2 separate regions of the Homo sapiens genome follow, and region 2 is linked to region 1. Evidence: fine-mapped expression QTL. A gene starts in region 1. The other region holds a variant in brackets. All regions are shown on one strand. Distances are from middle to middle. Region 1 holds the start of AQP8 (aquaporin 8). Region 2 overlaps LCMT1 (leucine carboxyl methyltransferase 1).

What was found. PIP is the estimated chance that this variant, and not a neighbour inherited with it, causes the effect. A credible set is the group of variants that fine-mapping cannot tell apart.
Region 2: its variant is the best candidate, but not a certain one, in a credible set for the expression of AQP8 in cerebellum (GTEx, PIP 0.82).

The regions. Positions count from the first base shown.
Region 1 is chr16:25,208,996-25,225,425 of GRCh38, reverse strand. It overlaps AQP8 (aquaporin 8), which reads right to left and starts at 8,479. Exons shown (of 6, transcript NM_001169.3): 1 at 8,369-8,479; 2 at 7,981-8,228; 3 at 3,843-3,969; 4 at 850-1,064. The coding sequence starts at 8,380.
Region 2 is chr16:25,176,781-25,192,992 of GRCh38, reverse strand. It overlaps LCMT1 (leucine carboxyl methyltransferase 1), which reads right to left. Exons shown (of 11, transcript NM_016309.3): 11 at 14,765-14,992. The coding sequence ends at 14,970. It also overlaps the pseudogene RN7SL557P. Among named protein-coding and RNA genes, the nearest start is that of AQP8, 32 kb to the left of the region's middle. The variant G/A (reference allele first, on the strand shown) is at 11,857.

The DNA.
Region 1 (16,430 bases):
CACAGCTTTACACACACATTCCCCAGCCTGCCCCAGGCTCCACCTCCCAAAGTTGAGGGAGAGCTGACCCAGGAGAAAGGTTAGACTTGGTTCTGTGTCCAAAAGAAAGGAAAGAGTCAGACATTAGGGAGGGGCTCCCTGGGCTGGGCACTGTGGCTCATGCCTGTAATTCCAGTACTTTTGAGAGGCCAACGCAGGAGGATGGCTTGAAGCCAGGAGTTCAAGACCAGCCTGGGCAACAGAGCGTGACCCCTATCTCTACAACAAAAATTAAAAGGGTTCACTCAGCCTCTTGTCCCAAATCTATCACTTAATTTGCCACTGCCCACTGACCTTAAATAAGTCACTTCTGTCCTCTCTAAGCCTCAGTTTCCTTATCTATAAAACGGGAGACATCATCCCCAATCTTGTCTACTTAATCCCTTCCAAAGCCTGCTGGGAGTCTAAAAATAAATGAGACAACAGCTACACATGCTCTTTGTAAGCCTGAGGCTAAAACCCGGCTGCCCGCTGACCGAATGAACACAGTTCACAGAAATGTTGTATTTACGCTACCAACATTGGAAAACATCACATACAGATTTAAATTTCTGACTTCCTTTGAATGAAAGCATCAGCCCAGACCCATGTACCCAGCAATAATTGACAAGAGCTGAACTGACTGCAGCACCTCTGACACTGCAGTCCCCACCACTCCCTGTTGTCTGCCTGATGCCAGCCCCCCTCCCCATTTGCAGCACCTTCCTGGCCCCTAATAGCAACTGAATCTGTGACCCTCAGGCCTGAAATCCCCCAGAGCTGAACAGCACAGATCTGGGCATGGTCACCCCACTGCCAAGGGACACTCACCCAGCCAGGATATCCACGGTGACGGCAAAGCCGATGGAGAACGGGGCCAGAGGGCCCTTTGTCTTCTCATTGATGGCACCCATGCATACAGCCAGGGCCAGCAGCGTCGTCAGGATGATCTCTGCCACCAACGCCCCTGCCACCTGCCCCTGCTCCTGGACTGTCACAAAGGCCGCCCCAGATGCATTCCAGAACCTCTCCTCAGGACTCACCGCCTGCACAGAGAAGCTGCTGAGCCTCACAGTGGGGCAGAGAGACAGCTGGAAACTGAGGGGAGAGGGCCTAAAAAACGCATGCTACCCACCTTAAGAGCCAGTGAAGGGTTATGTCCAATTTCAGTTAGATATACCTGCATCCACATCCCAGCTCTGCCAGATTTTACTGTGCGACCCTGCGTGAACTACTGAACCTTTCTGAGCCTCACTTTGTTCAGCTGAAAAATAGTAATGGGGCTAGGCGTGGTGGCTCACGCCAGCAACCCCAGCACTTTGGGAGGCTGAGATGGGTGGGTCACTAGAGCCCAGGAGTTTGAGACCAGCCTTGCCAACATGGTGAAACCCCATCTCCACTACAAATACAAAAATTAGCGGGGTGAAGTGGCAGGCACCTGTAATCCCAGCTGCTCAGGAGGCTGAGGCACCAGAATCACTTGAACTCTGGAAGCAGAGGTTGCAGTGAGCTGAGATCACACCACTGCACTCCAGCTTGAACAACAGAGCAAGACTCCGTCTCAAAAAAAAAAAAAAGAAAAAGAAAAAGAAAAATGGGGATAACCCAGTCATGGCTCCAGGTTACAGACCTAAAACTTATGTAACTTAGATGATCCTCTTTGAGAAAAAGAACATAAACTATCTTTTTATTTTTCTTTGACACAGAGTCTAGCTCTGTCACCCAGGCTGGAGTGCAGTGACACGATCATAGCTCACTGCAGCCTGGACCTCCTGGGCTCCAGTGTTCCTCCTACCTCAGCCTCTCATGTAGCTGGGACCACAGGTACATACCAACCATGCCCACCTAATGTTTTTTTTAAAATTTTTTGTAGAGATGGAAGGTCTTACTATGTTGCCCAGGCTGGTCTGGAACTCCTAGGCTCCAGTGATCCTCCCGCCTCTGCCTCCCAAAATGCTGGGATTACAGGCACCAGCCGCCATGCGTGGCTAAAAATACCTTACTCTTAGAAACTTTACAAACACATATGATCAGGTGAACTCATTGCTAAGCCCCCACAGGACCGTGGAAGGGGCATGTGCAGGAGAGCCCTGAAGCCTGAGCTCAATTATTTCTATGGGCGATCGGCCTCAGGGCTATCACAGCCCCGAAGGGGAAAGACAGTGCAGTGCACAAGCTTCTGGACTCTGGATCCAGTCGGGGCTGTGCTGCTTACAGGCACGTCTGAACTTGAGCAAGTTACCTGCTTCTCTGCACCTCTGTTTTCTCATCTATAAAATAGGGATGATACTGACAGCTCCCAGCTCACAGACAAGGCCGTTGGTGTGCCTGGCACAAGGTAAGCGCTCTCTATGAACTGACTATGGTTTTTCATAAAGTTGCTGGGAGATGAAATAAGAGAATATGTGTAAAACATTTAGCAGGAAGAATGTGCTTAGGGAACCCTGCTGCCCCGCAGCTGTCAGAACCATGTTTGACAGGTTTTAAGTGGCAGGGCTTGAGCTCGAGTCTGGCCACTGCTTTTCAGAGCAGAAGCCGAGAAGGAAGGTCCCGGGCGTGTTCCATAGACAGGGGAACAGGCTGTGGCTCTCAAATTGGGACATGGAGAGACCACAGCAGGGGATGACAGTAAAGTGAGGCTTGAGAACAAAGTCTGCGGTGGGTCAGCACTTACAGCTTCAGACCCTATCACAGCCAAGCTGACAGAGCTCCCCCATCCACCACCCCCCACACACACACCAAGCAAGGCCCACATCTTGAAGGGCTTGAAGTATCCCTGGCTGAACCAAGACTTAAGGGCAAAAGAAAAGAAAGAAAGAGAGGGAAAAAAAAGAAAAAGAGGGATGAAGGGAGAAAGTCTATCCATGGATTTATGCATAAAGCTATGAAAACTCTGTGGCTGGCCAGGCTCGGTGGCTCATGTCTGTAATCCCAGCACTTTGGGAGGCCAAGGCAGGAAGATCACTTGAGGCCAGGAGTTGGAGGCCAATGTGGTCAACACAGCGAGAGCCCACCTCTACAGAAAAAAATTTTTTTTAATTTATTTATTTTTTATTGATAATTCTTGGGTGTTTCTCACAGAGGGGGATTTGGCAGGGTCATAGGACAATAGTGGAGGGAAGGTCAGCAGATAAACAAGTGAACAAAGGTCTCTGGTTTTCCTAGGCAGAGGAAATTAGTTGGGTGTGGTGACACACACCTGTAGTCCCAGCTACTCAAGAGGCTGAGGCAGGAGGATCACTTGAGCCCAGGAGGTCGAGCCTGCAGTGAGCTATGATTGCACCACCACACTCCAGCCTGGACAACAGAGTGAGACCCTATCTCTAAAATAAAAAAGAGAGGCCGGGCACAGTGGCTCATGCCTGTAACCCCAGCACTTTGGGAGACCAAGGCAGGTAGATCACTTGAGCTCAGTAGTTCAAGACCAGCCTGGCCAACATGATGAAACCCCGTCTCTACTAAAAATACAAAAATTAGCTGGGCATGGTGGCATGCGCCTGTAATCCCAGTTACTCAGGAGGCTGAGGTGGGAGAATTGCTTGAGCCCAGGAGGCAGAGGTTGCAGTGAGCCAAGATCAGGCCACTGCACTCCAGCCTGGGTGACAGAGCAAGACTCCATCTCAAAAAAACAAACAAATAAAAAATACAATAAAATGCAATAAGAAAGAAAGAGAGAAGAAAAACGTCCACCAATTCCACTGGCAGAAACAAGCAAAAGATTGGACATTTCCCCACTCCCCACTGTCCCACACACACACCCACATATGCACCTCCAGCAGCCCCATCAGAGAGGAAGACTAGCCCAGCCCCTGGGGTTTACCCACCTTGGCCAAGGCAGCCCCGAGCATCCCCCCGAGCAGCTGTGAGACCCAGTACGGGAGGAGCATCACCAGGTTGAGGCCTCCGATCAGCATGGCTGCCAGGGACACCGCAGGGTTGAAGTGTCCACCACTGTAACCCACAAGAGCAGAGGAAGTCATGAGCCCAGGGCTGACCACATGGCTGGCACTTGAGACAGTGTGTCCCAGCCAACCCACCAGGCTGGCCTCTCAGGGCAAGAGTCAGTCCGGGGCCCAGCTCAAATACAAAGAGGCACCAAATTGCTTCCATTTTCCCTGAGATGCCAGGCAGAGGGTAAGAGATAAAGGGCAGCCTCTAAGTCCAAAGCCCAGCCCCCAGGATGGCCCTGGAGGAAGAGCGTGTAGGGAGACCATCCCTTAACTCCTCCCTGACTCCCTCCAAGCCTCCCTCCAGCCCTTCAGAGATGTGGCCACAGGTCAGATTGAGATACCAAGGCTCCAAGTTAGTAGCCCAAGAGCGGTATCCAGGCCTCCCCTTATGATTTGTTTGATTTTACGAGACGGAGTCTTGCTCTGTCGCGCGGGCTGCAGTGCAATGGTGTGATCTCGGCTCACTGCAGCTTCCACCTTTTGAGTTCAAGCAATTCTTCTGACTCAGCCTCCTAAGTAGCTGGAACTACAGGTGTGTGCCACCACGCCTGGCTTATTTTTGTATTTTTAGTAGAGACGAGGTTTCACCATGTTGGTCAGGCTGGTCTCAAACTCCTGACCTCAAGCGATCCACCCACGTCGGCCTCCCAAAGTGCTGGGGTTACAGGCACGAGCTACCGTGCCCGGCCCGGGTCTCCCTTTATGAGTAGCTAGGCCCTGAATAAGACCTCCTGATTGGTTGAACTGCTCAGCCAGTGAAAACCCTACTTGTGGTCTGAAAGTGTGATGGGTGTAAAATGCAGATTTGGAGTTCAGGCTGAAAATGGCATTGAGAATCACGGGGTGGAGTTGGAGGTTCATGACCAGGTTAGGGATTGGGATTGGGAGTTTGGGGTGTGGAAGGGAATTAGACAAGTCAGAACCTGAGGTCAAAGGGCAGGTTGCAGTTGATCAGCCACCCCCTGGCTCATGGGTAAAGAGCCTTCGTGTTCACCAAGATGTTCAACCAGCCCAGGCCCCAGAGCCAGGGTGGCTGCACTCACATCAGTGTCCCAACCAGTCCCACTCTGATGGAGGAAATATTGTCACAGTTTGGCCTCCTGAATCCATCTGGTTTCCAGGAATGGATACTCCCCAATGAGAGAGAAAGGGACCCCAAGACTCCCCATGTCACTTGAGAACCAAAGTGCCCCCCTAATGTAAAGAGCCCACCAATGAGCTTACCCATCCTCCAAAGGACATAGGACATTCAGTTGAGACTGGGCAGAGGACCTCAGCTCTGCCCAAAAGGACTTTGTCCAACACCCTGATAGCTCGAGACCAGCTACCCCAACTTGTCTGGCTCAGCTCTGGGCCCAGGCCCTCAGATAAGCTCCATGCACGGTTTGATTTGATTTGTTTTTTGTTTTTTGTTTTTTTTTTTGAGACAGGGTCTCCCTTTGTCACCCAGGCTGGAGTGCAATGGTGCAATCTCGGCTCACTGCAACCTCCGCCTCCTGGTTTCAAGCGATTCTTCTGCTTCAGCCTCCCAAGTAGATGGGATAACGGGGCTGCCACCACGCCCGGCTAATTTTTGTATTTTTGGTAGAGACGGGGTTTCACCATGTTGGCCAGGTTGGTCTCGAACTCCTGACCTCAGGTGATTCACCTGCCTCGGCCTCCCAAAGTGCTGGGATTACAGGCGTGAGCCACTGCGCCTGACCTCCATGCATGGTTTGAAAGCACCAGCCAGTGCTCAGACTCCACAGGTTGGGAAGAGGGGCAGCCAGGCCTACTTGGCCTCAAGTAGCTTAGCCTGGGCTCTGCTGAGATACACAGATGAAGTCAGGGTGAGGCGGCTTCCCAGGGGAGCCCCAAAGGGGAGAGAAACTGTCACCCAGAGCATGGCTCTATCAGGAGGGCCAGGTGACGAAAACCACACATTTCCTGGTTTACACTCATTAGCAATAAAACAATCAAGACACATTCATTCATTCATTCATTGTTCACTCAGCATATATTTCTCTGACACTTACTGTGTGCCAGGGGCTGTGCTGGGTGCTTATAACTTACATACATAGCTTATCCTGGATCCAGTGAACAACCTCAAAGTCAGTGTCTGGCACGCAATAGGTGCTGAATAAATATTTGTCAAAAAAGCCAAACAGAGAGGCAGTATTTGCAGTGCCAAAGAGATGGTCTTTCCAGCCAGCTGGCCTGGGTTCAAAGCTCAACTCTGCCACTGAAGAGCTGTGTGGCATTGGCAAAGTTACATAACCTCTCTGTGCCTCAATGATCTCTGCCTGATAAAGCTATTGCAAAGATATTAAGAATTAATATTTGTACAGCCCATAGTAGTATCTATGTAGTTAGCATTCAAAAAACATCAGCTATTATTATTACTCATATTTATACCACTGCACACAGAGGCTTCAGCAACTTGCTGTGGTCACCCTGCTAAGAAGTGATAAAGGTTGCCTTCAATCTCAGATCCGTCCAAAGGGAAGATCATGTACTTTTTGTTTCACTTGCAGCCTCCCTTGGACGTCTAAAGAGATGTGGTTTGTTTTTTGTTTGTTTGTTTGTTTGTTTGTTTTTTGGAGATGGAGTCTCACTCTGTTGCCCAGGCTGGAGTGCAGTGGCACAATCTCGGCTCACTGCAACCTCTCCCTCCCAGTTCAAGCAATTCTCCTGCCTCAGCCTCCGAAGTAGCTGGGACCACAGGTGCCTGCCCCCACGCCCAGCTAATTTTTGTATCTTTAGTAGAGACAGGGTTTCACCCTGTTGGCCAGGCTGCTCTCCAACTCCTGACCTCAGGTGATCCACCCGCCTCAGCCTCCCAAAGTGCTGGGATTACAGGCGTGAGCCACTGCACCCGGCCTAAAGAGATGTTAAAGCTCTTTTCCATTCTGGTTTTCTCAGAAATAGTATTTCTGTTTCCTCATTCAGATCTATTTTTTGAGTGAGATTTAATACAGACCAACCATGTCCCAGATCACCCTGCCAGGCACCCCACTCAAGATCTTCGTCGTGATGGCTGGCTCTCCTGGGAACCAGCAGCCATGTCCACAGACCTCCCCATTGAGCCTCTACCCAGACGAGAGCTAAGCCAGAGAAGCCTGTCCCTTTCCCTGCCCCTCCTTCTTGATCACCTCTTGACAAGCCAGGACCACTGCAGATCTCTGCATACCCAGGTGGGAAAACCTGGCTCAGGTCTTCTATGCATTTCTGCTTTCCCTAAAACCCCCTTCTAGTGGTAACAATAACACAGCAACCAATGCCTGTTGTATGTTTGGTGTGTGCCAGGCGCTCTACTTCATTTAATTCTCATGACTTCCGCATGAGGCACTTGGATTTGAGCGCTGGAGCCAGACAGCTTGTTCTTGACTCCCGCCTCTGCCACTTTCTGGCCCTCTAAGCTTGGACAGATTACATGGCCTTTCACTTTTGCAGCTGTACAATGGGGCTAATAACAGGACCTACCCCACAAGGCTTTTGTGAGGATTAAATAACTAATATCTATAAAGTAATTAGACTAGTGCCTGGTACATGGTTAGCAATATAGATATGTTGGCTTGAAAAAAAAAACATTTAAAAGCTACTATTCCCATTTTATAGGCGGGGAACTTTGGGTTTAGAGAGTAACTTGCCAGCCAGGCATGGTGTCTCATGCCTGTAATCCCAAAACTTTGGGAAGCCAAGGCAGGAGGATCGCTTGAGACCAGGAGTTCAAGACTAGCCTGGGCAACATAGTGAGACCCCATCTCTACAACAAAATTTAAAAATTAGTTGGGTGCTGCGGCGCATGCCTGTGATCCAGCTACTCAAAAAGAGAATGACTTGCTCAAAGTCACAAGCTCACAGGCTGCGGGGTCTGGAGTTGACCCCAGTCTGACTCCCAACCCCATAGTTATCCAGAGCGCTCCTTGAAATCCCGAATACGTATGCGCCCAGGGGTCCTTGACAACGCCTTTGCTTTCCACACCCAGTGCCCCAAGTCAGCATCAGGCTGAATCCTCAGAGCTGGTCTCACCTGATATTCCCCAGCGTGGCAATCACGAGCCCCAAAGCCAGCCCGTGGGCCAGGGCCGGCTGCAGCAGCCCAGTGTCCGTCCCATTCTCAATGACCGACAGGCACCCGATGAAGATGAAGAGAGCAGAGCCCAGCAGTTCGACCAGACATGGCTGCACAAACCGTTCGTACCAGGACACTCGCCACCTGCCACCCACGCTCGGCTCCCTGGCCTTGTCATTGCCAAATTCAGGCTCACACATGGCTATCTGCCGTAGGGAAAAAGGGACAGAGGACACGGGTGGGAGGCAAGTCCAGATATAGAAGGCCCCGACCCCCAACCTTGAATTAATTCACAGCCCCCCTTGCTCTGCCAGCCTGGAGAGGAAGATGCCGACAGAGGGCTCACCTCTCCAGACATCAGGATCAGATGGCACAAACATCGGACTCTTGCCTGAGCTGCTGGGAAACCTGCACCTGCTGTGCAAGATACTCTTATCTCCTAGGGACAGGACCTGCTGATCACACTATGGGCTCTGCCCCTTTTAAAGGGCTGCAGAGGCTCAATGCTGGTGCAGAGAAAGCAATAAACCTCAGGTAGGAGGCGGCTCTGAGGCCCAGAAGAGGAAATTTTTTTAAATCTCAACAGGGCAGGGTGAGGGAGTCAGGGATTGCTGAACTTTCCGCCAGTGAGGGAAAAACACGCCAGCTTGGCTGTGTCATCTGGGAGCACACTCCAGGCTGTAGAAGGTGGGAGATGGGTCCAGCACCCCAGCTCCCCACGGTCCAAAGCAGAACAGCACATGTTAGTGGGCCCCACTGGGTTGGAACCTCACATGTTAAGAAACAGCAAACAGCCAGGTGCAGTGGCTCACGCCTGTAATCCCAGCACTTTGGGAGGCCGAGGCAGGTGGATCACGAGGTCAGGAGATTGAGACCATCCTGGCTAACACGGTGAAACCCCGTCTCTACTAAAAATACAAAACTCAGCCGGGCGTGGTGGTGCACGCCTGTAATCCCAGCTACTTGGGGGGCTAAGGCAGGAAAATCATTTGAACCTGGGAGACGAAGATTGCGCAGAGCCAAGATTGTGCAACTGCACTCCAGCCTGGGCAACAGAGCAAGGCTCTGAAAAAAAAAAAAAAGGAAAGAGAAAGAAGAAAGAAAGACAGAGAAAGAAAGAAAGGAAAGAAAAGAAAGAAAGAAAGAAAGAAAGAAAGAAAGAAAGAAAGAAAGAAAGAAAGAAAGAAAAAGAAAGAAAGAAAGAAAGAAAGAAAGAAAGAAAGAAAGAAAGAAAGAAAGAAAAAGAAAGAAAAAGAAAGAAAGAAAAGAAGGAAGGAAAGAAAGAAAGAAAGAAAGAAAGAAAGAAAGAAAGAAAGAAAGAAAGAAAAAAGAAAAAGAAAGAAAAGAAGGAAGGAAGGAGAAAGAAAGAGAGGGCGTGTTGGTGTTTGCCTGTAATCCCAGCTACTCAGGAGGATGAGGCATGAGAATCACTTGAACCCAGGACCCAGAGGTTGCAGTGAGCCAAGATCGCGCCACTGCACTTCAGCCTCAGAGTGAGACCCTGTCTAAAAAAAAAAAAAAAAAAAAGAAAGAAAGAAAGAAAAAAGAAAAGAAAGAAACAGCAATCCCATTTTCAATTATTTTTCCAATGAGTCCCACAGCTTCAAACACCTGCAGTCACCGTGACAGCCTGAGCCAGGACTGAGTGTATAGATGACGATCCTTCACAGACAGAGGCAGCAGAGACTGGCAAGAGGTAATGCAATGCAGCGGCAAGACCCATGAACTTTGGAAATAGGCTGCCTGGCGTTCAATCCCAGCTCTGCTGTAAACTAGCTATGTAACCCTTGGGCACATGACTTGGCCTCTCTGGGCCTTTGTTTTCTCATCTGTTAGGTGTGGATGTTAGTGGTTTCACCATGTCATAGGGTCGTTGGGAAGTTTAAATGAGATAATACGGGTAAAGTGCTCAGGACAGTGCTAGACACACAATACCAGTGTCCACTAATTTACAATACATGCTTAGCTGTAACTAATAGCTAATAGTGAGCACTTTCTATGTGCCAGGCACTGGGGCTAAGTGCCTTCTATTATCTCATTTAAACCTCACTGCCACCCTGTGAAGCAGGTACTATTATTACAACCATTTCACAGACGAGGAAGTGGAGTGTCAGGAAGATTGAGTTTCCCAAGATTACACAGCTTATATGATCACAGAACTTGTGGGCTGTCACAAAAGGATAAATACTGTATCTGATTCCACTTGTATGAAGTACCTAGACTAGTCAAATTCATAGAGACAGAAGTAGAATGGTGGTTTCCACGGCCCGAGGGGAAGGGAGAATGAAGAGTTTGTGTTTAGCGGGTACAGATTTCCTGTTTGGGAGGAAAGTTTTGGGATGGATGATACAGTGGCACAACAATGTGAAGTACTTAATGTCACTGAAATGTACACTTAAAAATGGTTCCAAATGCTGGGTGTGCTTGGCTCACACCTGTAATCTCAGCACTTTGGGAGACCAAGGCAGGAGGATCACTTGATTTTAGGAGTTTGACACCAGTCTGGCCACATGGTGAAACCCTGTCTCTACTAAAAATACAAAAATTGGCTGGGTGTGGTGGTGCACGCCTGTAATCCCAGCTACTTGGGAAGCTGAGGCAGGAGAATCGCTTGAACCTGGGGGGCAGAGGTTGTAGTGAGCTGAGATCACACCACTACACTCCAGCCTGGGTGAGAGGATGAGACTCCATCTCAAAAAAAAAAAGGTTAAAATGGCATATTTTATTTTATGTGTATCTTGCCACAATTGAAAAAAAATACTTGTGAGCTAACCCACTACACTCTACTGCCTTTCTAAGAGAGATGGATGGATGGATGGATGGATGGATGGATGGATGGATGGATAAGTGGATGGATGGGTGGATGCATGGATGGATGGGTGGATGGATGGATGGATAGATAGATGGTTGGGTGGGTGGGTGGGTGGATGGATGGATGGATGGATGGATGGATGGATAGATGGGTGGGTGGATGGATGAATGGATGGATGGATGGATGGATGGTTGGAAAGAAGGGAAGAAAGAAAGGAAGGGAGGGAGGAAGGAAGGGAGAAAGGAAGGAGGAAGGAAAGAAAATGAGATGAGTTCCTTATTCATTCATTCACTCACCAAACATTTAAATAGCTGCTGCAAGCCAGTCACTGTTCTAAGCTGGCTGGAGATGTAGCAGTGAACAAGACAGGCAAAATCCTGCTCTGTCTCATAGCTTTATCTTTGAGTGTTTGTATGCACTGATAGAGAAGTCAAGCTAGAGCTAACGGAATTTTAATGCTCATTTCTGACATTTCTCAACTACTCACTACATCTCCAACACCATGCTAAACACTCGGTATATATTCGTAAACCCCTTTGAGATAAGTCCTATCACTTATTATCACCATCTTCAGATGATAAAAACGAGGCACAAAGAAGTTAAGAACTCACCCATGGCTGTGTACATAAAAATATCTGCTTCAGGACAGAAGTGGACATATCTAGAGAAGAGCGTGACAGTTTGTTGACAGCCCATGTCAGCGAGAGGCCCAGGAATACAGGGTCTCTGCCAAATATCTGCACCTCTAGGAAGGTTATTTTTAGCCCTGTTCTCTACCTCCTCCATATCCCACAGCACATCATACAAGATGTTTCTTAGACCCTTCCTTCCACATCCTATAAATAGCAACATAAGATAGTCTGACCCAAGGCTTCCCCATCCCCCTCATTATTTGCTCAAATCCTGCCAGTACTGCTTCCAGAATAATTCTCTCTTGTTTTCACCCATGCCTTCATCTGTTCTTGCTTAGTCCCTTGAACAAAGAAAAACTAAGCTGGATGCACTGGCTCGCACCTGTAATCCCAGCACTTTGGGAGGCCAACGCGGGCAGATCACAAGGTCAGGAGTTCAAGACCAGCCTGACCAACATGGTGAAACCCCATCTCTACCAAAAATACAAAAATTAGCTGGGCATGGTGGCACACGCCTGTAATCCCAGCTACTCAGGAGGCTGAGGCAGGAGAATCGCTTGAACCTGGAAGACGGAGGTTGCAGCGAGCCGAGATCACACCACAGCACTCCAGCCTGGGCCACAGAGCGACACTCCATCCCACCCCCCCACCCCCCAAAAAATGGATTCTTTGCTCACATAATAGTCCATGACAGGCTCGTCTCCAAATGGTGACTCAGGGATCCAGGCCACTTCCATCTTGGAGCTGCCCCATCTAGGTCCTCAGATCTTCTCCAGCAAAATGGGAAAAAGAGAATGTGGAGGGCTGTGCAGGAAATTATTATGGGCTAGGCCTAGAAATACCATATATCCCTCTCACCTATATTTGATGGGCTCAAACTCAGTCACGTGGCTTCACCTGACTGCAATCGAGCCTGGGAATTGTAGTCTAGCCCTGTGCCCAGGAGGAAAAAGAAAGGCATTTTATGAATATCGAGCAATTTCTGCCACATACTAGAAATTGTTGCTTTCCCAGAGACCATGGTTCTAGTTGAGTTTTTCCCTGAATTAAATCATTCAGTGTGTCCCATGGTTCCAAGACAAACCCAGACTCCCTTAGCTAGCCACAGAGACTTCAGTTCCTAGCCCCTGAATCATCTCTTGCCACATGAACCCTAAACAATTTATCAGATAAGCTATGTACCCTCACCCGGCCTTGTCCATGCCAGTCCCTCTGTTTGGAGTCCTTGTTTGCCCTCTTGGCCAACTTCTACTCCTCATTCAGATCTCAGATCAGATATTATGTCCTCTCTGATGCCTGGGCAAACTACCTATTGGTCCTCTAAAAACACCCTTCCCTTGCTCAAGGCAAGGTTGGATTCCATAACTCCAAAACTAGGCCAGTGCAGCGGCTCATGCCTGTAATCCCAGCACTTTGGGAGGCCAAGGCGGGTGAATCACAAGGTCAGGAGATCGAGACCATCCTGGCTAACACAGTAAAACCCCATCTCTCCTAAAAATACAAGAAATTAGCCGGGCATGGTGGCACGCGCCTGTAGTCCCAACTACTCAGGAGGCTGAGGCAGGAGAATTGCTTGAACACGGGAGGTGGAGATTGCAGTGAGCCAAGATTGCACCACTGCACTCCAGCCTTGGCAACAGAGCAAGAGTCCGTCTTAATTAAAAAAAGAAAAAAAAAAGGAAAGAAAAAGAAAACTAGTGGCTTCCAGGGAAAACCTGAATGCCATTCAGACAAAACAACATATTTCCACTACATGAGAGTTTTAGAGTATGTCCTGATGTCCTCATACACAATATACTGTCTCTCAAAACCACTGAAAAACCTAGTGGGCTAAGGAGATACTGTCTTCCTAAAAAATTCTTTGGCTGGCAAACTTCCTAGTTTTCCAAATCCAGGTCTGGTTAACAGGACCAAGGCTTCTAATCTTTATCCCTGTTTGGTTGGCAAGACTTCTCTGCATCTATACCTGTCTGCCATCCCCCACCAGGTCCAGATGGAGTGTAGAAACAGGTCACATTTTACCCTGGCATCTCACCTTTCCCTTCTCTCTTGCCTTGATGGCTGCACTGTTGTGCCAGATGTGACGCTGCTGCTGTGGCAGCCATCTTGGACCGTATATATAGGCCAGATGTAGTGGCTCACCCTTGTAATCCCACCATTTTGGGAGGCCGAGGCAGGTTCATTACCTGAGGTCAGGAGTTTGAGACCAGCCTGGCCATATAGTGAAACCCCGTCTCTATTAAAAATACAGACATTAGGCCGGGCGCGGTGGCTCACGCCTGTAATCCCAGCACTTTGGGAGGCCGAGGCGGGCGGATCACGAGGTCAGCAGATCGAGACCATCCCGGCTAAAACGGTGAAACCCCGTCTCTACTAAAAATACAAAAAATTAGCTGGGCGTAGTGGCGGGCGCCTGTAGTCCCAGCTACTTGGGAGGCTGAGGCAGGAGAATGGCATGAACCCGGGAGGCGGAGCTTGCAGTGAGCCGAGATCCCGCCACTGCACTCCAGCCTGGGTGACAGAGCGAGACTCCGTCTCAAAAAAAAAAAAAAAAAAAAAAAAAAATACAGACATTAGTGGGGCGTTGTGGCACACACCTGTAGTCCCAACTACTCAGGAGGCTGAGGCAAGAGAATCACTTGGACCTGGGAAGCAGCAATTGCAGTGAGCCAAGATCACATCATTGCACTCCAGCCTGGGCAACAGAGCAAGACTCCATCTTAAAAAAAAAAAAAAAAAAAAAAAAAAAAAATATATATATATATATATATATATATATATATATATATATATATATAAAATAAAATAAATATATATATAATATAAAATATATAGATATAAAAATATATATATATATGATTGTAAAACCTAAGACCAGTACTTGAGCTATTCTGCAGACCCTGTACTTGATGGATCAGCTAGCACCACCACCTAGATGGATAAACTGGCTCATGTGATCTTGTGGGCTCCCTCAGGAACTGACTCAGCGCAAGGAGACAGCTTCAACTCCATATAATTTCATCTCTGACCAATCAGCACTCCTGACTCACCGGCTTACTCCCACCCACCAAGTCGTCCTTAAAAACTCTGACCCCTGAATGCTTGGGGAGACTGATTTGAGTAATAATAAACTGGTCTTCTGCACAGCCAGCTCTGCGTGAATTACTCTTTCTCTATGGCAATTTCCCTATCTTGATAAATTGGCTCTGTCTAGGCAGCGGGCAAGGTGAACCTGCTGGGAGGTTATGTAATTATTTAAGAATGAAATACAAATATAAATAAAATATGTTTTTAATGTACTTGTCTTATTCAGTGTATGTGTATTATTGTCTGTACAATATATGTGAATGTTTTGTGTACATGTGGGGTTTTTTTACAAATGGCTACTAAGTTGTTAGAACATAAGAACTTTTTAAGTGTTTTGCACCTAATTCCTTAATAAATAGAGCTATTAGGTATTTTTTTTGGGGGGGGCCTCCGCACAGAGTGAACCAAGAAAGTTTGGGGTCCTCTGAATTAAAGAATTTATGTTCTTGTATTTCAAGTACTTGCAGAAGAGAACAGTTCTTGCAGATACATCATCCCCAAATTCCAGAGATACTGGGTTTCAGGTTAATAACTTCTCAAAGCTAGACACCATTTATAATGCAGAGACTTGACAATTTAGGCTGTGCTCTGTGGACAACCACAGAAACTTAAAGCAGAACCTGTCATTCTCTTCTGAAACTGCTTTCTTTCCATCTCGGTAGATTTGCAATTGTATTCAATGTATTACCACTTGGAGCTCAGGGCAACTAGCCATTGGAAGTAAGTCTAGTTTTCACCTTTCTGTCTTCTCAAACTGCAAGATTGAGAAGACATTTCTCAACTACTCACTACATCTCCAACACCATGCTAAACACTCGGTATGTATTTGTAACCCCCCTTTGAGATAAGTCCTATCACTTATTATCACCATCTTCAGATGATAAAAACGAGGCACAAAGAAGTTAAAGAACTCACCCATGGATGGATGGATGGATGGATGGATGGATGGATGGATGGAAGTTTGCACCTGAGCAACTTCCTTCCTCAGAGAAGTCACCAGCTCTTTCTATTCTCCCCTGCAGTGTCAAGGTCAAGGTGTTGAACGTCTTTCGAGTCACGAGTAACCAGTTATATTGGCTATTTCAGAATGCTTTACAGCCAAAAAGTCCTTGAACGAAGGAAGAAGTCCACTAAGTCTCATCAGCAAGGGTCCAGCTTCTCTTCATCTGCATGTTTTGAACAATAAAAATGACTACCACTTTCTGAGAACCTACTGAGAGCTTGGCACTCCGTCTTCCTTTTCTATCTCTTTTATCCTTTTTATCTACATCCAAATTAAATAACTCTACAGAAGAAAAAATCCAAATGATCAATAAACAGACAAAAAAAAACCTTAATCTCTGCAATAGCCAGAAAAAAATTCAAATTAAAGCAACAGAAATAACATTTTCACCATTAGATTGGTAGAAAGACTTTTTTAACTGATTAACATACAGTGCTGACAAAGAAGGGGAAAACAGGCCAGGCGCAGTGGCTCATGCCTGTAATCCCAGCACTTTGGGAGGCCGAGGCTGGCAGATCGCCTGAGGTCAGGAGCTCAACACTAGCCTGGCCAACATGGTGAAACCCTGTCTCTATGAAAAATACAAAAATCAGCCAGGCGTGGTGGCTCACGCCTGTAGTCCTAGCTACTTGGGAGGCTGAGGCAGGAGAATTGCTTGAACTTGGGAGGTGGAGGTTGTAGTGAGCCGAGATTGCATCACTGCACTCCAGCCTGGGCAACAGAGTGAGACTCCATCTCAAAAAAAAAAAAAAAAAAAGAAAAAGAAAAGAAAAAAAAGATGGGGAAACAGGAAAACTTATACATTGCTGGTGGAAGTGGGAATTGCTACAATATTTTGTAACACCATCTTGAAATGTTTATTGTTAAATACTTA
Region 2 (16,212 bases), 32 kb after region 1:
TATTCTAACTTATGAGTACAAGAAAATGTTGGTATGCTATTTGTACTTTTTTTTTTTTTTTGAGACGGAGTCTCACTCTGTCACCCAGGCTGGAGTGCAGTGGTGCGATCTCATCTCACTGCAACCTCTGCCTGCCAGGTTCAAGCCATTCTCCTGCCTCAGCCTCCTGAGTAGCTGGGGCTACAAGCGTGCACCGCCACACCCGGCTAATTTTTGTATTTTTAGTAGAGACGGGATTTCACCATATTGGTCAGGCTGGTCTCGAACTCCTGACCTCATGATCTGCCTACCTCAAGCCTCCCAAAGTGATGGGATTACAGGCTTGAGCCACTGTGCCCAGCCGCCTGGCTAATTTTTGTATTTTTTAGTAGAGACAGGGTTTCAACATGTTGGCCAGGCTGGTCTCGAACTCCTGACTTCAAGTGATCCACCCACCTTGGCTTCCCAAAGTGCTGGGATTACAGGCGTGAGCCACCATTCCCGGTTCAGTCCTTCCAGATTTTCTAAATTCTACTCTGTCATTAAATCCAGCTTCCCAGAGCTAAATAATCAGACCGCATTGCTTTGGCCTCATAGAATCACCTTCATGGAATTTCACTTCGGCATTAAGTCATCAGTTGCATCCAAGGACCCTGGGGCATCAGCTACAAACCCAGGTCCACGAACATGCGAATCACAGGGATCTCACTGAGGGTTTCTGGGTGAAGCTTCTCCAGGGTCTCCTGCAGGAACAGCTGTGCCTCTCTTGAGCATGTGGCTGGCTGTAATTTTATGGAAACTGAATCATGTTTCAATCCTTGAGAGGGAGGACTTGGGGGAAGTCAAATTTATGGCCCACTTCCAGCATCTATGCGAGACAATGAAATGTGCACATCCGTGGGCTAATAACTCCTGGCATTTAAAACAAAACAAAATGAACAAACAAAAAAAGCCTCATGTTCAAACTTCCCCGAGCATTTGTTTGTTTGTTTGTTTTTCTGTTGTATAGTTTTTTTTGTTTTTTTGTTTTGTTTTGAGACAGTCTCGCTCTGTCGCCAGGCTGGAGTGTGGTGGCACAATCTCAGCTCACTGCAACCTCCATCTCCTGGGTTCAAGTGATTCTCCTGCTTCAGTCTCCTGAGTAGCTGGATTACAGGCAGTAGCCACCACCCCCGGCTAATTTTTTGTATTTTTAGTAGAGATGGGGTTTCACCATGTTGGCCAGGATGGTGTCGATCTCTTGACCTTGTGATCCGCCTGCCTCAGCCTCCCAAAATGCTGGGACTACAGGAGTGAGCCACCATGCCCATCCTGTTGCTGTAGTTTTATCAGGTATCTCAATTCCCCTTGTAGAACAAGGAGGGATATAAAGAAATAAACCAAAATATAAATATATCTCCTGCCCATAACAGATGCTTTATTCATGATCAGATATCCACTTCTCCCACCCAAAAATGAAAGGCATAAAAGCCTCTAAGATGGAATCCCTTGAGTCAGGAGTTTGAGGATGCAGAAAGCTGTGATTATGCCACCGCACTCCAGCCTGGGTGAGACAGTGAGACCCCATCTCTTAAGAAAACAAAACAAAAAATAACAATAAGATGAAAAAATATCGTTTGACCCTGCCTCAAACTTCATAAATTTTCTGACGTTATAGAAACCTATTCTCAGCTGGGCACGGTGGCTCACGCCTGTAATCCCAGCACTTTGGAAGGCCAAGGAGGGCAGATCACTTGAGGTCAGGAGTTCGAGACCAGCCTGATCAATATGGTGAAACCCCATCTCTACTAATTATACAAAAATTAGTCAGGCATGGTGGTTGGCACCTGTAATTCCAGCTACTCGGGAGACTGAGGCAGGAGAATCGCTTGAACCTGGGAGGAGGAGGTTTTGGTGAGCTGAGATTGCGCCACTGCATTCCAGCCTGGGCAACAGAGGGAGACTCTGTCTCAAAACAAAACAAAACACAAAACAAACCAATTCTCTGCACGCTACAGTGAACACAACCAAAATGACTTCACACTGGGTAGCCGATGATCTAAAAGTCCTGTGTATTTTGCCCATCTTGTATTATAAAAGCTCGAAAGCCAGATATTCTATTTCCCACCGTCTCTTCCAAATAGATTTAGTTCTAGGGTTGCCAGATTTAGCAAAAAAAAAAAAAAAAAAATACAGAACGCCCAGTTAATTTGAATTTCAGGTAAACAACACATAATGTTTTTAGTGTAAGTATACTGCAAATTTCAGGTAAACAACACATTATTTCTTTAGTGTATGCATGTGCCAAATATTACATGGGTCCCAGTTATATATTTTTTTAATTATGTGTTCTTTACTGAAATTCTATTTAACTGGGCATTCTGTATTTCATTTGGCAACCCTACCCAGTTCTTAGCATGAGATACAGAGGGAAGTCTATTAGGCATATTTGGGAACAATTTTATTCTGGATAAAAAAGACAGAAACCACTGAAAAAAAAAAAAGACCCATCTTTTTTCCTGCCATGAATGCAGTTATGATGCCTGGCACTCTGGGAGCTACTTTGTGATCATGAGGCAACAAGCTGAAGATGAAAAGTCAACATGCTGTCCAGGCGCAGTGGCTCACCCCTGTAATCCCAGCACTTTGGGAGGCCGAGGCAGGTGGATCACTTGAAGCCAGCAGTTCGAGACCAGCCTGACCAACAGGGTGAAATCCCATCTCTACTGAAAAATAAAACAAAACACACACAGAAAAAACAATGAAAATTAGCTGGGCATGCTGACGCATGCCTATAATCCCAGCTACTCAGGAAGTTGAGGCACTTGAATCATGTTTCAATCCTTGAGAGGACTTGGGGGGAAGTCAAATTTGTGGTCTACTTCCAGCATCTGTGCGAGACAATAAAATGTGCACATCTGTGGGTAATATAACTCACCGATTATATTAGGGAGGCAGAGGTTGCAGTGAGCCAAGATCACGCCACTGCACTCCAGCCTGGGCGAGAGAGTGAGACCCTGTCTCCAAAAAAAGAAAAAAAGTCAACATGCCAAGGAAGACAGAGCAGAAGGCATGAATCCAAGCTCTTGGTGGCATTCATCAATTAATGGCGTATTCCTGAAACCATTTAGATAGTGCATTTCAAAAGCCGTTTCTGCAACTAAGTATTCAAAAGCCTCACTAAGAACTGTAAGACTTTTGAGGAGAGGGTCATTCTTCATCAACAGCATCAAGGGGTGCCCAGAAAAGGAGAAATAAGCCAACCTGACAAATGGGAAGAAATGAGACCCCACACCTTCATGTAATGGTGGTGCTGGGGGAAAAGAAAAAGATTTTATGTGCTATTAAGGGCAGGGAGAAAGGAGACACATATAACATAGCAGTCAAAAGCACAGGCTCTAAAGCCAACCTGCCTGGTTTCAAATTCAGTTCCATCATTGATTGGCTGTATGACCTTGGACAAATTACACAATTTCCACATACCCTTATTTCCTCATGTTTAAAATGAGAATAAGGCTGGGCACAGTGACTCACGCCTGTAATCCGAACACTTTGGGAGGCCAAAGCAAGAGGACGGCGTGAGCCCAGGAGTTCAAGACAAACCTGGGCAACACGGTGAGACCCCATCTATACAAAATATAAAAAATCAGTCAGGCATGGTGGCATATGCCTGTAGTCCTAGCTAATTAGACTTGGGAGGTTGAGGTGGGAGGATCCGTTGAGCCCAAAGTGGTTGCAATGAGCTGCGATTATGCCACTGCGCTCCAACATGGGTGACAGGAGTGAGGCCCGGTCTCAAAAAAAAGTGAGGATTAAAACAAACTGACGTGGAGTTGTTATAGGGACGGAATAAATTAACACAAGCAATTAGAAGCACAAATATGCAATTGGTTAGTAATGACGGAAGACACGGGTATACAGGCATGCTCTCTTGCGAATGCGAATCCATCTGCCTAGGGGACTTTGTATGACAGTCTCAGGAAAGCTTCCTCGGCCAGCTTAAATGGAAAAGCTGCTTCTCTTTTTTTCTTTTTCTTTTTCTTTGAGACGGAGTCTTGCTCTGTTGCCCAGGCTGGAGTGCAGTGGTGCGATCTCAGTTCACTGAGAGCTCAACCTCCGCTTCCTGGGTTCAAGTGATTCTCGTGCCTCAGCCTCCTGAGTACCTGGGATGACAGGTGTGCGTCACCATGCCGCGCTAAGGCTAGTTTTGTTGTTGTTGTTGTTTTTGAGGCAGAGTCTCACTCTGTCGCCAGGCTGGAGTGCAGTGGTGCGATCTCGGCTCACTGCAACCTCCACCTCCCGGGTTCAAGCAACTCTCCTGCCTCAGCCTCTGGAGTAGCTGGGACTACAGGCACGTGCCACCATGCCCAGCTAATTTTTGTATTTTAGTAGAGACGGAGTTTCACCATGTTGGCCAGGATGGTCTCGATCTCTTGACCTCATGATCCACCCGCCTCGGCCTCCCAGAGTGCTGGGATTACAGGCGTAAGCCACCACGCCTGGCCTAATTTTCTTTTTTTTTTTTTTAATAGAGACAGGGTTTCACCATGTTGGCCAGGCTGCTCTCGAACTCCTGACCTCAAGTGATCCGCCTGCTTTGGCCTCCTAAAGTGCTGGGATTACAGGCATGAGCCACTGCACCCAGCCAATAAGCTGCTTTTGTTAGGTGAATCCATGGCTTTCCCACATAAAGGTTGCCATACCTTACAGTAAGGCATATTTGACAGTCCTCCAAAAGAATGAAAGCTCCTTAAGGGCATATGTCATGTCTGTCTTGCTTATACAGTAGGTGCTTATCTTTCATTGAATAAAATAATAAAATAATGAAAGGAGCCAGGTGCAGTGGCTCACACCTGTAATCCCAGCACTTTGGGAGGCCGAGGAGGGCAGATTGCCTGAGGTCAGGAGTTCAAGACCACTCTAGCCAACATGGTGAAACCCCGTCTGTACTAAAAATACAAAAATTAGCTGGGTGTGGTGGCGCACACCTGTGATCCCAGCTACTCAGGAGGCTGAGGTAGGAGAATTGCTTGAACCTGGGAGGCAGAGGTTGCAGTGAGCTGAGATCATGCCATTGCACTCCAGCCTGGGCAACAGAGCAAGACTCCATCTCGAGGAAAAAAAAAAAATGAAAGGGTCAAGGAAGTTTGCATTTGGGGTGGGCTTTGAAGGTGGGCAGGGTTGCAGGCATGAACTCTGGGGAAAGCACAGGCCAAGGAGAGAGGCTGGCATTAGATACAGCCTGGCGGCACCTGGTTTTTTGACTAGAAAATAAGACTACATGTAAGATGAGGCCCAATCACAGAGCATCTTCCTTGCCTTGTTAAGAGTTGGGCGTTCAGGCATTAAGCAAAGAGGCAGCTTTGACAGTCTTTGGTCACTGGAATGATGTGCTCAGGGCTTCAGGGGACAGGTTTGTTGTCTACAGGAATGCAGGAGGCTGAGAACAAAGGCCAAAAAGATTCTTGTGAGACAGAAGACTGAGTCTGGGTGGCAGCAGTACAGTAGAGACAGTTATGATAAACACGCTGATTGAGGAAAAGGAACCAAACATGGCCTCCTAGCCAGTGAGGAGAACAAGGAGAAGCAAGGAGTCGATGACTCTGAGGATGCTGAGTGGAGTGGAGGTCCTGCTGGGAAGGAATTCAAAGCTCATTAAAGAAGAGCTATTTAGGGCCAGGCGTGGTGGCTCATGCCTGTAATCCCAGCACTTTGGGAGGCCAAGGAGGGTGGATCACCTGAGGTCAGGAGTTCGAGAGCAACCTGGCCAACATGGCAAGACCTCATCTCTACTAAAAATGCAAAAATTAGCTGGATGTGGTGACTCATGCCTGTAATTCCAGCTACTCAGAGGTTGAGGCAAGAGAATCGCTTGAACCTGCGAGGTGGAGGCTGCAGTGAGCTGAGACTATACCACTGCACTCCAGCCTGGGTGACACAGCAAAACTCCGTCTCAAAAAAAAAAAAAGAAAAGAAAAGTAAAGTTATTTAGGAGAGGGGGAAAGATGTATTTGGTTTTAGAAATGTTGTTTGAGAAGCTGGTGAGTCACCTAAGAGGAGGTTAAGATAGGCTCCTGGGAATTCCATCTAGGAGACATCAGACTTTTCCCTCTGTTTGGTTAATTAGGGTTAAGATCCAGGTTTCAGGCCGGCCACGGTGGCTCACACCTGTAATCACAGCACTTTGGGAGGCCAAAGCGGGTGGATGACCTGAGGTCAGGAGTTCGAGGCCAGCCTGGTCAACATGGAGAAACTCCATCTCTACTAAAAATACAAAAATTAGCTCGGCATGGTGGCGCTTGCCTGTAATCCCAGCTACTAGGGAGGCTGAGGTGGGAGGATTGCTTGAACCCGAGAGGCAGAGGTAGCAGTGAGCTGAGATTGTGCCACTGCACTCCACCCTGGGTGACAGAGCAGGACTCTGCCTCAAAGAAAAAAAGAAAAAAGATCAAGGTCTCAGATAAGCTTTGGAGTCTGAAGCCTATGGTGAGAACAGCTAGAGAGAAGATGAATAAGGAAACAGAGGACAGGAACAACACTGTGAACAAACTGGACCTAACAGACATGTGCAGGACACTCCACACACATGCAGCGAATGCATGTTTAATTAATACCAATTCTTCTCAAACTAATTCAAAAGAAAAAAGAAAAAGGAGGAAACACTTCCTAACTGATTCTAAAAGCATGGCCCCAGTACCAAAGCTAAATGAAGACCCTGGAAGAAGATTACAGACTAATATCTCATATAAAGATTGAGGCCGGGTGTAGTTGCTCACGCCTGTAATCCCAGCAGCACTTTGGGAGGCCGAGGCAGGTGGATCATTTGAGATCAGGAGTTCAGGACCAGCCTAGCCAACATGGTGAAACCCCGTCTCTACTAAAAATACAAAAATTGGCCAGGCATGGTGGCTCACGCCTGTAATCCCAGCACTTTGGGAGGCCAAGGCGGGTGGATCACTAGGTCAGGAGTTTGAGGCCAGCCTGGCCAACACAGTGAAACCCCGTCTCTACTAAAAATACAAAAAATTAGCCAGGCGTGGTGGCGGGCGCCTGTAATTCCAGCTACTCAGGAGGCTGAGGCAGGAGAATCACTTGAACCCAGGAGGCAGAGGTTGCAGTGAGCCAAGATGGTGCCATTGCACTCCAGCCTGGGTGACAAAAGTGAAACTCCATCTCGAAAAAAAAAAATTAGCCGGGCGTGGTGGCACATGCCTGTAATCCCAGCTACTCAGGAGGCTGAGGCACGAGAATCGCTTGAACCTTGAAGGTGGAGGTTGCAGTGAACAAGATTGTGTCACTGCACTCCAGCCTGGGCAACAGAGTGAGACTCTGTCTCAAAAAAGAAAAGAACATTACTAGGCTGGTTGTGGTGGCTCAAGCCTGTAATGCCAGTACTTTGGGAGGCTGAGGCAGGCAGATTGCTTGAGTTCAGGAGTTTGAGACCAGCCTGGGCGACATGGCGAAACCTCATCTCTACAGAAAAAATATCAAAAAAAGCCAGGCATGGTGGCAACATGCCTGTCATCCCAGCTACTGAAGAGGCTGAGGTGGAAAGATCACTTGAGCTGGGGAGTTGGAGGCTGCAGTGAGCCGTGATCAAGCCACTGAACTCCATGCTGAGCGACAGAGTGAGACCTTGTCTCAACAACAATAATAAAAAAGATGGATACAAAAATCCTCAACGAAAATTCTAGAAAACTGTCGCTCAGCGTGGAGTTCAGTGGCTTGATCACGGCTCACTGCAGCCTCCAACTCCCCAGCTCAAGTGATCTTTCCACCTCAGCCTCTTCAGTAGCTGGATGATAGGCATGTTGCCACCACGCCTGGCTTTTTTTGGTATTCTAGCAAACTGAACTCAGCAGTATATTAAAAGAATTATATGCCATGACCAAGTGGAATTATTCCTGGAGTGGCCCAATGTACAAAAATCAACCGATGTAATGTACCACATTAACCAAAGGGGAAAAAAAAACACACACACACACAATCATCTCAATTGATATAAACAAAAATTTGAGAACATTTATATCCTTTCATGATTTAAAAAGCACTCAACGAAATTAGAAATAGGAAATTAATTCAATATAATAAAGACTATTTATTTATGAGGCAGGATTTTGCTATGTTGTCCAGGCTGGAGGGCAGTGGCATGATCATTACTCACTGTAACCTCAAACTCCCGGGCTCAAGCTATCATCCTGCCTCAGCCTCCAAGTAGCTAGGCATGCACCACCATGCCCAGCTAATTTTTTAGTTTTTTGTAAACAAAGAGTCTTCCTATGTTGCCCAGACTGATCTCAAACTCCTGACCTCAAGCAATCCTCCCACCTCAGCCTCCCAAACTGCTGGGATTACAGGCAGGAGCCACCATACACAACCTGACCATATAAAAAAACCCACAGCTAATATCATACTCAACAACGAAAGACTAAAAGCTTTTTCTCCAATAGCAGGCATAAGACAAGGATGTCCACTTTTTACTACTTCTATTCAATATCGGATTGAAGGTAGACAGAGAAATTGTGCAAGAAAAACAAAGAGAAGGCATCCAAAATGGCACAGAAGTAACATTATGTCTGTCATGATCTTATATATAAGAAATCCAGGCCGGGCGTGGTGGCTCACGCCTATAATTCCAGCACCTTGGGAGGCTAAGGCAAGCAGATCACCTGAGGTCAGGAGTTCGAGACCAGTCTGGCCAACATGGTGAAACCCCGTCTCTACTGGAAATACAAAAATTAGCTGGGTGCGGTGTTGTGCACCTGTAGTCCCAGCTACTCGGGAGGCTGAGGCAGGAGAATCGCTTGAGCCTGGGAGGCGGAGGTTGCAGTGAGCAGAGATCGCACCATTGTACTCCAGCCTGGGCAACAAGAGCAAGACTCCATCTCAAAAAAAAAAAAAAAGAAAAAGAAAAAGAAAAGAAAAGAAAAGAAAAAAAGAACAAATATTGTTCTTTCGAAAGATTTCACGTACAGGAATATCTGAGAGATATTGCAGGTTTAGTTCCAGATCATCTCAATAAAGTGAATATCACATGAATTTTTTGGTTTCCCAGTGCATATAAATGTTATGTTTATGCTATACTGTATTCTATTACGTGTGCAATAGTATTATGTCTTTAAGATGTGCATGCCTTACTTTAAAAATACGTTATTGCTTTAAAAATGCTAATGATCATCTGAGCCTTCAGCAAGTCATCATCATTTGGCTGGTGGAGAGTCTTGCTTTGATGTTGATGGTTGCTGGTTGAGCAGGGTGGTGGTTACTGAAAGATCAGTGAATGGCTGTGCAGACAACAATGAAGTTTGCCTCATTGGTTGACTCTTCCTTTCCCGAAAGATTTCTGTGGCGAGAGAGGCTGTTTTACAGCATTTTACTCACAGTAGAACTTCTTTCAAAATTGGAGTCATTCCTTTTAAACTTTGCTGCTGCTTTATCAACTAAATTTGTGTAACATCTTAAATCCCTTATTGTCATTTCAACAATGTTCACAGCATCTTCAAGGATGTAGGAGTAGATTCTATCTCAAGAAACCACTTTCTCTGCTCATTCATAAGTAGCAATTCCTCATCCGTTGAAGTCTGATCATGAGATTGCAGCAATTCAGTCACATCTTTATGCTCCATTCCTAATTCTAGTTACCTTGCTATTTCCACCACATCTGCAATTCCTTCCTCTACTGAAGTCTTAAATGCCTCAAAATCATCCATGAGGGCTGGAATCAACTTCATCCAAACCCATTAAGGTTGATATTTCGACCTCCTCCCATGCATTACTAATTTTTTTTTTTTTTTTTTTTTTGAGACGGAGTCTAGCTCTGTGGCCCAGGCTGGAGCGCAATGGCGTGATCTCGGCTCACTGCAACCTCCGCCTCCCGGGCTCAAGCAATTCTCCTGCCTCAGCCTCCTCAATAGCTGGGATTACAGGCATGTCCCACCACACCCGGCTAATTTTTGCATTTTTAGTAGAGAAGGGGGTTTCACCATGTTGGCCAGGCTGGTCTTGAACTCCTGACCTCAAATGATTTGCCCATCTCGGCCTCCCAAAGTGCTGGGGTTACAGGCATGAGCCACCGTGCTCGGCTACTAATGTTCTTAATGGCATCTAGAATGGTGAATCCTTTTCAGAAGGTTTCCAATGTACTTTACCCAGATCCATCAGAGAAATCACTACCTATGGTGGCTACAGCCTTACAAAATGTATTTCATTATTATTTTTTTTTTTTTTGAGATGGAGTCTCACTCTGTCGCCCAGGCTGGAGTGCAGTGGCGTGATCTTGGCTCACTGCAACCTCTGCCTCCCAAGTTCAAGCGATTCTCCTGCCTCAGCCTCCCAAGTAGCTGGGACTACTGCCGCCCGCCACTGCGCCGGGTTAATTTATGTATTTTTAGTAGAGACGGGGTTTCACCATATTGGCCAGGCTGGTCTGGAACTCTTGACCTTGTGATCCACCCACCTCGGCCTCCCAAAGTGCTGGGATTACAAGCGTGAGCCACTGCACCTGGCCTTACAAAATACATTTCTAAATAGTAAGACTTGAAAGTCAAAATTACTCCTTGATCCGTGGGGCTGCAGAATGAATGTTGTGTCAGCATGCATGAAAACAGCATTCATCGCCTTGCACATCTCTGTCAGAGTTCTTTGGTGACCAGGTGCACTGTCAATAAGCAATAATATTTTGAAAGTAATTTTTTTTCTCAGTAGTAGGTGTCAACAATGGCCTTAAAATACTCAGTAAACCACACCGTAATCAGATGTGCTGTCACCTGGGCTTTGTTGTTCCATTTCTATAGCACACAGATTTGGCACCTTTTTTTTTTTTTTTTGAGACAGAGTCTCACTCTGTCACACAAACCGGAGTGCAGTGGCACAATCTTGCTTCAGTGCAACTTCCACCTCCCAGGTTCAAGCAATCCTCGTGCCTCAGCCTCCCAAGTAGCTGGGACTACAGGCATGCACCACCACACCCAGCTAATTTTTGTATTTTTTAGTAAAGATGGGGTTTCACCATGTTGGCTCGGCTAGTTTCGAACTCCTGGCCTCAAGCAATCCGCCTGCCTTGGCATGACCCACTGCACCCAGTGGATTTAGCATAATTCTTAAGGGCCCTAGGATTTTCAGAATGGTAAATAAGCACTGACCTTAACTTAATGTCACCAGCTGCATTTCATACTAGACACTAAGAAGTCAGGCTTTCCTATGAAGTTTTGAAGCCAGGCATTGAATTCTCCTCTCTAGCTTTGGAAGTCCTAGATGGCATCCTCTTGCAAGAGAAAGCTGTTTTGCCTACATTGAAAATCTGTTGTTTAGTGTAGCCACCTTCCTTCATCAATGATCTCAGCTGGATCTTCTGGACAACTTGCTTCAGTTTCTCCATCAGCACCTGCTGCTTCACCTTGCACTTTTATGTTATGGAGACGGCTTCTTTCCTTAAACCTCAGGAACCAACCTCTGCTAGCTTCCAACTTTTCTTCTGCAGCTTCCTCTCCTCTCTCAGCCATCACATAATTGAAGAGAGTTAGGGCCCTGCTCTCGATTAGGCTTTGGCTTAAGGGAAGGTTGTGGCTGGTTTGATCTTCTATACAGACCGCTCAAACTTTCTCCATATCGGTAATAATACAGTTTCGCTTTCTTATCATTCATGTGTTCACTGGAGTAGCACTTTTTCATTTCCTCCAAGAACTTTTCCTTTGCATTCACAACTTGGCTGTTTGGCACAAGAGGTCTAGCTTTCGGCCTATTTCAGTTTTTTTTTTTTTTTTTTTTTTTTTCAGATGGAGTCTCACTCTGTCACCCAGGCTGGAGTGCAGTGGTGCCATCTTCGCTCACTGCAACCTCTGCCTCCCAGGTTCAAGCGATTCTCCTGCCTCAAACTCCCAAGTAGCTGGGACTACAGGC[G/A]CCTGCCACCACACCAGGCTAATTTTTGTACTTTTAGTAGAGATGAGGTTTCACTATGTTGGCCAGGCTGGTCTCAAACTCCTGACCTCAGGTGATCCGCCCACCTCGGCCTCCCAAAGTGCTGGGATTACAGGCATGAGCCACCACAGCCGACCCTATTTCAGCTTTTGACGTGCCTTCCTCACCAAGCTTAATCATTTCCAGCTTTGATTTAAAGTGAAAGGCATGTGACTCTTTGTGACTCTTCCTTTCACTTGAGCATGTAGAGGCCATTGTAGGGTTATTAACTGGCCTAATTTCAATATCAAATTTGGAATAGGACGGATGGGAGGATCACTTGAACCCGAGTTCAAGACCACCCCTGGCAACATAGGGAGACCCTGTCTCCACAAAAAAAGTTAAAAATAGCCAGGCTTGCTGGTGTGTGCCTGTGGTTCAGTTACTCAGGAGGCTGAGGAAGGAGGATCACTTGAGCCCAAGGAGGTTGAGGCTGCAGAGAGCTATGACTGCACTACTGCACTCCAGCCTGGGAGATGGGGCAAGACCCTTTCTGAAAACAACAACAACAAAAAGTAAACATTGTGGGGCCAGGCACGGCGGCTCACGCCTGTAATCCCAGCACTTTGGGAGGCCGAGGCAGGTGGATCACGAGGTCAGGAGATAGAGACCATCCTGCCTAACGTGGTGAAACTCCATCTCTACTAAAAACACAAAAAAAATTAGCTGGGCATGGTGGCGGGCTCCTGTAGTCCCAGCTACTTGGGAAGCTGGGGCAGGAGAATGGCGTGAATCCGGGAGGTGGAGCTTGCAGTGAGCTGAGATCGCGCCACTGCACTCCAGGCTAGGTGACAGAGCAAGACTCCGTCTCAATAAAAAAAGTAAACATTGTTTCTGCTAATGCTATACATATACCAGAGTTACCCCTTTCCTGTGGTTTTGTTTTCCAAGGTTTCCGTTACCTGAGGTCAGTTGAGGTCCAAAAATAAGTGAGTATAGCTAAGATATTTTCTTTTTTTCCAAGATGGAGTCTTGCTCTGTCATCCAGGCTGGAGTGCAGTGGCGCAATCTCGGTTCACTGCAACCTCTGCCTCCTGGGTTCAAGCAATTCTCCTGCCTTACAGATGCCTGCCACCAAGCCCGGATTTTTTTTTTTTTTTTTTTGTATTTTTAGTAGAGACAGGGTTTCACCATGTTGGCCAGGCTGGTCTTGAACTCCTGACCTTGTGATCTGCCCATCTCAGCCCCCCAAAGAGCTGGAATTACAGGCGGCGGGGCGGTGGGGGGGGGGTTTCACCATGTTGGCCAGGCTGGTCTCGAACTCCTGACTTCAGGATCCACCTGTCTTGGCCTCCCCAAGTGCTGGGATTACAGGCGTGCACCACTGCACTCGGCCAGTTAAGATATCTTCAAAGACCACATTCACATAACCTTAACATATTGCTATAGTTGTTCTTTTTTAAATTGTTGCTAGTCTTACTGCACCTAATTTATACATTTTATCACAGGTATTTATTGATAGGAACACATCCCATCAACTGGCATGCCACTAGAGGTGCAGGGCCCACACTCTAGGGGACACTGATTTAAGGATTCTGAATGGTAGAAGAGAGGCTGTTACCTCTCCAGCAGAGGAGAGCGCTGGGGACTTCTGCAGTGCCACCCTGCACATGCAGGTTCAGGCTCGCAGCGCCAGTCACATAACTTAAGAAGTCCCTGTAGACAAGGTCTACCCATCACTCAGGGAGTTCAGCAGACAGGTATGGGACAAGCCTTATGTTTCTGAAATATGAGGTCATCACTCAGGGGCCCTATGAACCTGTCTCATAACTGCATTGACTTCTAGTTGTGGCTGTAAGTTTAAGCCCCCAACTTGGTGGCTCAAAACACCACAGATCAGTCTGGGCACAGAGGCTCATGCCTGTAATCCCAGCACTTTGGGAGGCCAAGACGGGCGGATCACTTGAGGTCAGGAGTTCGTGACCAGCCTGGCCAACATGGTGAAACTCTATCTCCACTAAAAATACAAAAATTAGACAGGCATGATGGTATGCACCTGTAATCCCAGCTACTTGGGAGGCTGAGGCGGAAGAATCACTTGAACCCGGGAGGCAGAGGGTGCAGTGAGCCGAGATCGCGCCACTGCACTCCAAGCCTGGGCAACAGAGCAAGACTCCATCTAAAAAAAAGAAAAAAAAAAAAAAAAAACCACCACCACAGATGTATTCTCTTACGGCTCTGGAGGTGAGAAATCTGAAATCGATTTCTCTGGGCTAACATCAAGGTGTTGGCAGGCAGTTCCAGCTGGAGGCCAAGGGAGGGTCTGCTGCTATTGCCCTAGGTAGCATCCCCTGGTTGCCCCTGCTTCTTGTCTGGGCCCCTCTGACTCTGACGCCTCGTCTGTCCCTCTAATGAGGACCCCGTGATCCTATCAGGCCCACCTGGATAACCCAGGACCACCTCTTCATCTCAAACCCCTAATCCCATTTGCAAAGCCCCTTTGCCACAGAAGGTAACACACACTCACAGGTTCTGGGGATCAGGACATGGACACTTTAGGGGCCATTCTTCAGCCTGCCACCATGACCAAGATGAAGGAGGCAACTGAGCAGGCCAGTGTGGCCAGGGCGGAGACAGGAGCCCGAGAAGAGCACTAGCCTCACATCTGGTGGAGGACAAGGGTCAGGGAGTGAGGCACAATGTCATGTGCTGCAACAAACAGCATGTGAGGGAGTAGATCCTAAAATGGACTCAAGGTCATGGGCCGGGTGTGACTCACAGGGAGTAAGCCAAGGTCAAAGCAGACTTGGGGTCCTTGGCTTTAGCTAACACAGAGGTGAACCCTGGCCCGCCCAAGCCATGGGGCACGGAACGAGCAGCGGCAGCCAGCAGAGGTCCAACCACAGGCGACTGGTGGCAAGTGAGATTTATTTAAACAACGACATGTCAACAGGAACAGGAAGAGGAACATGTGCGACCACTGTAGTGACCAAGGCTTCTCAAGAGTGTGGGATGAGACCTGCGGACGAGGCCCGCCCACCGCTCAGGGAGCTTGCAGGTCTCCTCCAGGAGGGCAAGTGGCTTCGGCTTCTGGCTCGGCATAAGCCTTCGACAGATTAATAAGTTATCTCCTTCAGCCCTGAGGGGAGAGACACACAGACACCATTAGGAGACTCTGGTGGCCAGGAGCAGAGGCCCCTAGAGGACCCCCAGTGACCGGCTCAGGGGCACCAGCCACACTGCTGACCACTGTAGCACCGCCCTCCTGCTACATAAAATGAGGTTTCGCAAGGAAACAAAAGGTTGGGTAAGACTGTGTTTATGGGTGGTTTTAAAATGATTAAGAAAACATTATAACAGTTTATGGACTGTCTGCAGTTAACGCCAAAAATCTACCCTTTATGTGCTGAACTTTGAGCAAAGGCAGATACGGATCTTCCACACACACAGACAAGCACTGATGTCCCAAAGCAGTCACGGGTCAGTGGGGACAAAGTAAATTCCTGACATTAAAATGCTCAATATATTGTTCCTTTGTGAGAACTAGAGTTCACTTAAAAGTATTACAAATAACCTACATTTCCAAAAATATGGAAATATTAATTCAGCCATAGTGACATAATACAATATTATAAAGCCATTACAATTATGCTCATTGAGCATTTTTAATTGCCAGGGGGAAATGCTAATGTTATAACATTAAATTGAAAACACTTGAAATCAAAGTTGCATAAATATAAAAATTCAACTCTTATTATAAAAACAAACAAAACACTATTTAGAAATAGAGGGGAAGGGAAAAGTCACAAGAGGTCATCTCTGACTGACAGGCATACAGGTGGATTTTCTTAGTCATACTTTTTAGAAGCTTTTAAGTTTCCTACTAAGAAGTATTTTTTAATATAATTAAGAGGAGGATAACATACAAATACCCCAATAAGTGACTTTTTTTTTTTTCTGGAGACAGAGTCGCGCTCTGTTGCCCAGGCTGGAGTACAGTGGTGCCATCTCAGCTCACTGCAACTTCTGCCTCCCGGGTTCAAGAGATTCTCCTGCCTCAGCCTCCCAAGTAGCTGGGACTACAGGCATGTGCCACCACGCCCAGCTAAATTTTGTATTTTTAGTAGAGACGGGATTTCACCATGTTGGCCAGGCTGGTTTCGAACTCCTGACCTCAGGTGATCTGCCTGCCTTAGCCTCCCAAAGTGCTGGGATTACAGGCATGAGCCACTGCGCTCAATTCACAATAAATGACTTTAAATCCAAAAGGAATGTGAAGGCCAGGCACAATGGCTCATGCCTATAATCCCAGCACTTTGGGGGGCCGAGCCAGGCAGATCACTTAAGGTCAGGAGTTCG